Linked DNA regions of Homo sapiens. The protein of the gene in region 1 purifies or fractionates together with the protein of each later gene. This does not show direct contact. Each region holds a gene or a part of one and is shown on either strand. Other genes may lie near its edges.

Region 1 (3,933 bases):
ATAAGGTGAAAATTATTGAACAAATAAACTAGTGTCTAACCTGGGGAATAAAAACTAAGATGATGCATGAAAACAATTTTAAAATACATGAAGTTAAAGTCTAGCATGTAGAAGAGGAAGAAGAGTTAGTACATGTTGTTCCAGAACAGAACTCCAGATCACAGATGAATTTAAAAAGATACAAATGTCATTATGAAGAACCACAGTGATTGGATCATGACAGAGACTGCTTTATAAACCAACTAGTTCTCTCTACTTATGGTCTTAGCAAACAGTAAATGATGATCTGTTGGGGAAAATTCCAGGAATAAATTTTCTCAAATTACACTTTTTTTTTTTTTTTTGAGACGTAGTCTCTCTCTGTCGCCCAGGCTGGAGTGCAGTGGCAAGATCTCGGCTCACTGCAAGCTCCGCCTCCCAGGTTCACGCCATTCTCCTGCCTCAGCCTCGCGAGTAGCTGGGACTACAGGCGCCCGCCACCACGCCCTGCTAATTTTTTTTATTTTTAGTAGAGACGGGGTTTCTCCATGTTAGCCAGGATGGTCTCGATCTCCTGACCTCGTGATCCGCCCGCCTCGGCTTCCCAAAGTGCTGGGATTACAGGCGTGAGCCACCGCGCCCGGCCCTCAAATCGCATTTAAAAAAAAAATCCCCTGAAGTTGAAGTTCATTAAGTTTATTCCCTTGTTAAAACAGAGGAATGATCATGTTGACACACAGTGAAAACAATTCTAATGAGGTAGGAGGCAGTACTGGATTCTGGAGGTGAGGCTTGGACACCAGACCTAATTGATGATTAACTAAAACAGGGATGGGGCAAAAACACTTTCCCATAAGACACACTGACCAGGGTGCCATGTCAGTTTGCCATTGCCATGGCAACACCCAGAAGTTACCACCACTTTCCATGACAATGACCCGATGACCCGGAAGTTGTCACACCTTTTCTAGAAATGTCTGCATGATCCACCCCTTAATTTTCATATAATTAAAAGTGGGTATCAATATGACTACAGAACTGCCTCTGAGCTGCTCCTCTGAGCACGATGCCTATAGGGTAGCCCTGCTCCACAGGGAGTAGTACCTCTGCTGCTGCTATGCACTGTCGCTTCAACAAAAGTTGCTAACACCTCTGGCTTACCCTTGAATTCTTTTCTGGATGAAGCCAGGAACCTTCCTGGGCTAAGCTCCAATTTGGGAGCCTTCCTGCCCTGCATCAGATTCCTTCTTAGATGAAGTTAAGAACTCTCCCAGGCTAACCTTCAATTTTAGGGCTCACCTGCCCTGCATCACTACTATTATGAACTGTACTGTCTCTGAACCAAACCTATCCATTGTTACATATGAAAAGGTTTTAATCAATTTTTCTTACATCAATACAATGGGAAATAGTACTACTATATTACTGAAATTACAAAACTAGAGTAATTGTAGCCATATTTCCAAAACAAAAATATAGCCTCAGACAGGCTTCCCTGGTGGGGAAAAAATATATACATATCCATATGTGTGTATGTGTGTGTGTTTATCACTATCACAGATTTTTATAATGCTTTATAACTTTAAAGACACTTTTACGTAATAGTCAAGAAATTCGATTACATCAACTGTTGAAGGCAGGGAACATATTTATATCTATAAAACAGATTCTGAGGCCTTTGCCCTAGGCCTTATTGCTACTAAATGCTACTAAATGCTAGAGAAGGACTTCAGCTACTAACTCCCAGTCTGTTGGAACATTTTGTCTTCAAAGTCAAGGGCTGATGCAATGATTGTGCTTATTAAAGTATGTGTACAAATGACCAGAATTGTAAAGAATTTCTTGAAAAGGGAATGGTGTAAAAATGTAGTTTGAAGATGCATTCTAACAATAGGTAATTTATAGACAATTCTATGTAATAGAAATCTACACTTGACAGTATTTCCTTCCTCAAGTGCAATAGGGCTTTAAAATCATTTTTTATTACTATTTCCCTGCCTCCATTATACTGACTCAAGCAGTTAGCTCTTTCTCAATACATTCCCATATACAAACCTCATCTCCTTCCTGAGGTCGCATCAAAGAAACCCGGTCATACTGCCGCCTCAACAAAGCCCAGAGAGCATCAAGACGACCCTAAGGGAAAATGAGATTTGTGAATTCCCAGAGAATGTACTCAATCTCTATGTACTGAATAAATGAAGACATAAAACGAAGAAAGTAAAATCTTCTTTACCCTCATTTCTTTCATAAGGTAAACTAATAAGTAATAAAAACCTAGAGGTTCTTATTGCCAAGAAAGTATTCAGCTGTTAAGAGTGTACAATGAATATCTGCAATTTCATCTACCCTCTTTCAAGTAGCTGGGGGGATGTGGTACAAAAAAAGTTACAATGTCTCCAGAAGTTTTGAGTTAAATTACACAAAATCTGGACACATACCTTAATTGGGGTGTACCATTTTGTCTGAGGAGGCTGGTGTGTGGGTTTGGGTCGAGGTGGTCTAGGCCTGATGGGTTCCTCTGTTTCTTCAGGAATCTTCACCACAGCATTTTTGGCTTTCTCTAGCCTTGCACCTTCCTCAGTAGATCCTTTATCACCCCAACGAACCTGTAAAACAAAGGGAGAGTACTGTTATCAGACATAAAGTGTCCTAGAGGAACAGGCTCTTATTGAGCCTATGGTCCTTTAGTTCACATCTCAGAGTGAAAAAGAAGATGAGCAGGTATCCTAATTCCTAATTTCTCCTCTTCAGAGGCTAAATAGGTTTCTCACCACTCCTGACTGTATTTAATATTAAGATCCAAAAAAAAAAAAAACCCTTTGTAAAAAAATCTGGAGCCAACTAAATTTGAAGCAACCATTTTTCCATAGTTTTAAATAAAGAGTCCATTTGTGGTTTACATATGAAATGCATGACAGTGTGTAATTTTGTTCTCTAATTTGGTTTGTTCCCCTGCTAGCTAAACACATACCCATATGTAGTGATGACACTGGAAGAAATATATGAAAATGACGATAGTTAGCATTTACTGAGTGATTACTATGTGTCAGTCTGCATTTAATCCATACAAAAATGCAGTGAGATAGAGACTCTATTTTCTTCTTTCCAGATGAGGCACAGGGAGGTTAAGTGATATGCCCAAAGCCAGCTAGTAAGTGACAGGGCAGGGATTCGAACATGGATTGAAATGGGTTAATAAGTTTCCAATTGGTTAGAATTTTACAAATGTATTTTATACAAAAGAGTTGCTTCTTCCAAACTTTTCATCACATCTGATTAAGGCAAAAAGTATGATCTGAACATTTAGTTTTTGAAAGTAAAATAATTATATATGAGTTTTCTTTACTTTTATAGTTCTAAGTAATATAGTGTTCAGCCTTTAGTTCCCAAGCTCATCTGAGTATGGTTGTGTGGCATATGATTTTTTTCATTGAGGAGGTCAAATCTGAAAAGACTGCTTTGAAAAGAAAAGTTCAGGAACCCTAGAGAATTCCACAAATTATAGCAAATTTCCTCCTCTGAAAATTCTTGACATTGAAAAACCATAAGATCAAATGATTGTTTTATTTTTCAATAGACAGAAATTAAGAGCAAATGATTGTTGTATTTTTCAATAGACAGAAATTAAGAGCTAAATTTGAGTCAAACTGGGCATGTAAAAATAGGATGCAGCCCCTGGAGAAGAGCTTGTCCAACCAGGAGTAGTGGAAAGCCCTACAAAAACCAAGGACATCACCAAAAATGGGCGAGGTCAGAGGAGTGAAGCTCTAAAAACCTATAATAAGAGCTACCGAGGGCACACTATGACACATCAGAGTTAAGTGATTTCTAAAAAGAAAAAAAAAAATCCTAAGACTTCCTAAAGCATTTTAATGATCTGAATTAGTGGGTAGGGATAGAGAAGATTACTATTCATGGAAAGAACTATTCAGTCTTTTTGATAAGGCTTAC
Region 2 (3,933 bases), on another chromosome or scaffold:
AGGTTCAAGCGATTCTCCTGCCTCAGCCTCCCTAGTAGCTGGGATTACAGGCATGTGCCACCACGCCCAGCTAATTTTGTATTTTTACTAGAGACGGGGTTTCTCCATGTTGGTCAGGCTGGTCTCGAACTCCCAACCTCAGGTGATCCACATGTCTCGGCCTCCCAAAGTGCTGAGATTACAGGCATGAGCCACGGCACCCGGCCTGTTTTAATTAAATTTAAATAGCCACATGTGGCTTGTGACTGCTGTATAGGTCAGCACAGCCTTAGAGCCTTAGAAATGTACAGTCCCAGAATGGTGGGACTCTGTAAGCATATTCCCTTAGAATCCCGAAATGCAGAGCCATCAGATCCTTGGAACTTGAAATGTCTAAGAGATTCTTAGACCTCTTGAAATGAAGACCTCTGGCCTGGCGCGGTGGCTCACGCCTGTAATCCCAGCACTTTGGGAGGCAAAGGTGGACAGATCTCTTGAGTGCAGGAGTTCGAGACCATGTTCGCCAACATAGTGAAACCCTGTCTCTACTAAAAATAAAAATAAAAAAAAAAATTAGCCAGGCGTGGTGGCATGCATCTGTAGTTCCAGCTATTTGGGAGGCTGAGGTGGGAGGATGGCCTGAGACTGTGAGGTGGAGATTGCAGTGAGTCAAGATCGCGCCACTGCACTCCAGCCCCAGCAGTAAAGCAAGAACCTATCTCAAAAAAAAAAAAAAAAAAAAAAAAAAAAGAGCTTTGGAAATGTGAAACGTTATCATCACAGACCTAAGAAATTTTAGTCATTGTTCCCTAGGATCATAGGCCCTTAGAAACTGAAACTGTAATACACAGGAACCTTTGGGACTTGATAATACTAAACCTTTGGAGTTTCCAATTAGAAATGTGGATCTTGAGAAATCTGACATAGAGTGACCAAAACCTTCCTGCTTTTACCACCGAAACTCTCAGCCTTGGGCCAACCAGTACAGTGGGTCACCCTACCATTTTTTTTTTTTTTTTGAGTCAGGGTCTCACTCTTCACCCAGGCTGGAGTGCAGTGGTGTGATCATGGCTCACTGCAGCCTTGAACTCCTGGACTCAAGTGATCCTCCCACCTCAGCCTCCTGAATAGCTGGAACTACAGGCATGCGCCACCATGCCTGGCTAATTAAAAATAATTTTTTTTTTTGGCGAAGCATGGTGGCGGATGCCTGTAATCCCAGCACTTTGGGAGGCTGAGGCGGATGGATCACTTGAGATCAGGAGTTTGAGACCAGCCTGACCAATATGGTGACACTACTAAAAATACAAAAATTAGATGGGTGTGGTGGTGGGCACCTGTAATCTCAGCTACCCAGGAGGCTGAGGCAGGAGAATCACTTGAACCCGGGAGATGGGGGTTTCAGTGAGCTGAGATCACACCATTTCAATCCATCCTAAGTGACAAGAGCTTAACTCCGTCTCAAAACAAAACAAAAAAATTTTTTTGTAAGATGGGGTCTTGCTATGTTGCCCAGGCTGGTGTGGAACTCCTGGGCTAAAATAACCCTCCCACCTCGGCCTCCGAAAGTGCTTTGATTACAGGGGTAAGCCAGAGTGCCTAGTAGTCACCCTACTTTGATGTATCAGAACAATATTAGCAAAGACCAGAGAACTTTATAGTTATAGAAAGACCTTAGACCTTTAGAACTGTAGACCCTTGAACCTTAGTACTTAGTATTCATAGAGGTCTGGAACCTTAGAAGTGTTTAATCATCAGCATTAAAACTGGCAAAGACCCTGAGGAGCCTCAGAGATATGGAACGTCATAATCATAAGCCTTTAAAACATGACACCCTAGCACCTTTGACCCTTGGGACCTTAACATCTTAGAAACACGGAGCGCTAGAATCATAAAATATAGATGATCATAATCATGAATTCTTAAAACCCAAAGGTCAGAATCAGTTCCCTCCAAATCTTAGAACTTTAGTAACTCAGCAGTTTATAATCACAAGATGGATCTCTGATACTAAGATTTTTGGAACTTTATTTATTTATTTATTTATTTGAGGTGGAGTCTCACTCTGTTGCCCAGGCTGGAGTGCAGTGGCGCAATGTCAGCTCACTGCAACCTCCACCTCCCAGGTTCATGAGATTCTCCCGCCTCGGGAGTCCCGAGTAGCTGGGACTACAGGCCCGCACCACCATGCCTGGCTAATTTTTGTATTTTTAATTGAGGCGGGGTTTCACCATGATGGCCAGGCTGGTCTTGAACTCCTGGGCTCGGGCAATCTGCCCACCTTGGCCTCCCAAAATGCTAGGATTACAGGCATGAGCCATGGCGCTGGCTCAAGAAACCTGGCTGATCTAGAAACCTGTAGTCCCAGCACTTTGAGAGGCCGAGGCGGGCGGATCGCTTGAGCCCAGGAGTTCGAGACCAGCCTGGCCAACATGGTGAAACCCCGTCTCTACTAAAAATATAAACATTAGCCAGGTGTGGTGGCGCATGCCTGTAGTTCCAGCTAGTCAACAGGCTGAGGTGGGAGAATCTCCTGAGCCCGGGAAGCAGAGGTTGCAGTGAGCCGAGATTGTGCCACTGCACTCCAGCCTGGGCAACAGGTTGAGACCCTGTCTCAAAACAATAAGAAACCTGGTTAGGCGCGGTAGCTCACGCCTATAATCCCAGCGCTTTGGGAGGCCAAGGTGGGGGGATCACTGGAGGTTGGGTGTTTGAGACCAGCCTGGCCAGCACGGCAAAACCCTGTCTCTATTAAAAATACAAAAATTAGCTGGGTGTGGTGGCGCGTGCCTCTAATCCCAGCTACTCAGGAGGATGAGGCAGGAGAATCGCCTGAACCTCAGAGGCGGAGGTTGCAGTGAGCCTAGATCGTGCCATTGTACTCCAGCCTGGGCGTCAATAGCAAAACTCTGTCTCAAAAAAAAAAAAAAAAAAGAGAGAGAGAGAGAAATCTGTATATGCCACAAAGTATGAACCAGATTCAACTGGTGGATTGCCAGCTTTGTCTGATCTAGAAACCTAGACTGATGAAAACATACACTCATGGAAACTTACAGTCATACTTTTAGAGCCTTAGAACCTTAAAAAGGTAGGAACATATCAACTTAGAATTCTAGAATTTACTAATTTAGTGTAAGTGAGTTTGTTTTTAGTTTTGTTTGTTTGTTTTTGTTTTTGAGAAGGAGTCTTGCTCTGTCGCCCAGGCTGGAGGGCAGTGACACTATCTCGGCTCACTGCAAGCTCCGCCTCCTGGGTTCATGCCATTCTCCTGCCTCAGCCTCCCGAGTAGCTAGGACTACAGGCGCCTGCCACCATGCCCCGCTAATTTTTTGTATTTTTAGCAGAGATGGGGTTTCACTGTGTTAGCCAGGATGGTTTTGATCTCCTGACCGCGTGATCTGCCCGCCTTGGCCTCCCAAAGTGCTGGAATTACAGGCATGAGCCACCGCGCCCGTCCTGTTTTTAGTTTTTGTTTGTTTTTTGAGGAGGAGGGGGTCTCTCCATGTTGCCTAGACAGGTCTCAAACTCCCGGTGTCAACTCATCCTTCTGAGTAGCTGGGATTACAGATGTGTACCACCACTCCCAGCTGTAGAATTTATTATTATTATTATTATTATTATCATTATCATTATTATTATTTGGACTGCTGCCAGGCTGGAGTGTGGTGATAAAAATCATAGCTCACTACAACCTCCAACTCCTGGGCTTGAGCAATCCTCCCACCGTAGCCTCCCAAGTAGCTGAGACTACAGGCATGCACCATCATGCCCAGCTAATTTTCTTATTATTTTATTTTTTTATAGAGACAGGGTCTCGCAATATTTTCCAGGCTGAACTTGAACTCCTGGACTCAAGTGATCCTCCCACCTTGGCCTCCCAAAGTGTTGGGATTACAGGTGTGAACCACTGGAATTTATTTTATCTAGAAAATATTAATTCAGTGCCTGCTGTGT

What was found. Proteins that work in one complex are often made in the same cells at the same time.
Region 2: the proteins of ANTXR2 (region 1) and SPTBN4 purify together in Homo sapiens (affinity purification with mass spectrometry; one large-scale study listed by BioGRID and IntAct). This does not show direct contact.

What each region holds. Positions count from the first base shown.
Region 1 is NC_000004.12:79,975,587-79,979,519, forward strand, and holds part of ANTXR2 (anthrax toxin receptor 2 isoform 1 precursor), read right to left. Parts: intron 2,589-3,933; coding exon 2,421-2,588; intron 2,116-2,420; coding exon 2,035-2,115; coding exon of another isoform or gene 1,993-2,034; exon of another isoform or gene 1,940-1,992; intron 1-1,939.
Region 2 is NC_000019.10:40,473,451-40,477,383, forward strand, and holds part of SPTBN4 (spectrin beta chain, non-erythrocytic 4), read left to right. Parts: intron 1-3,933.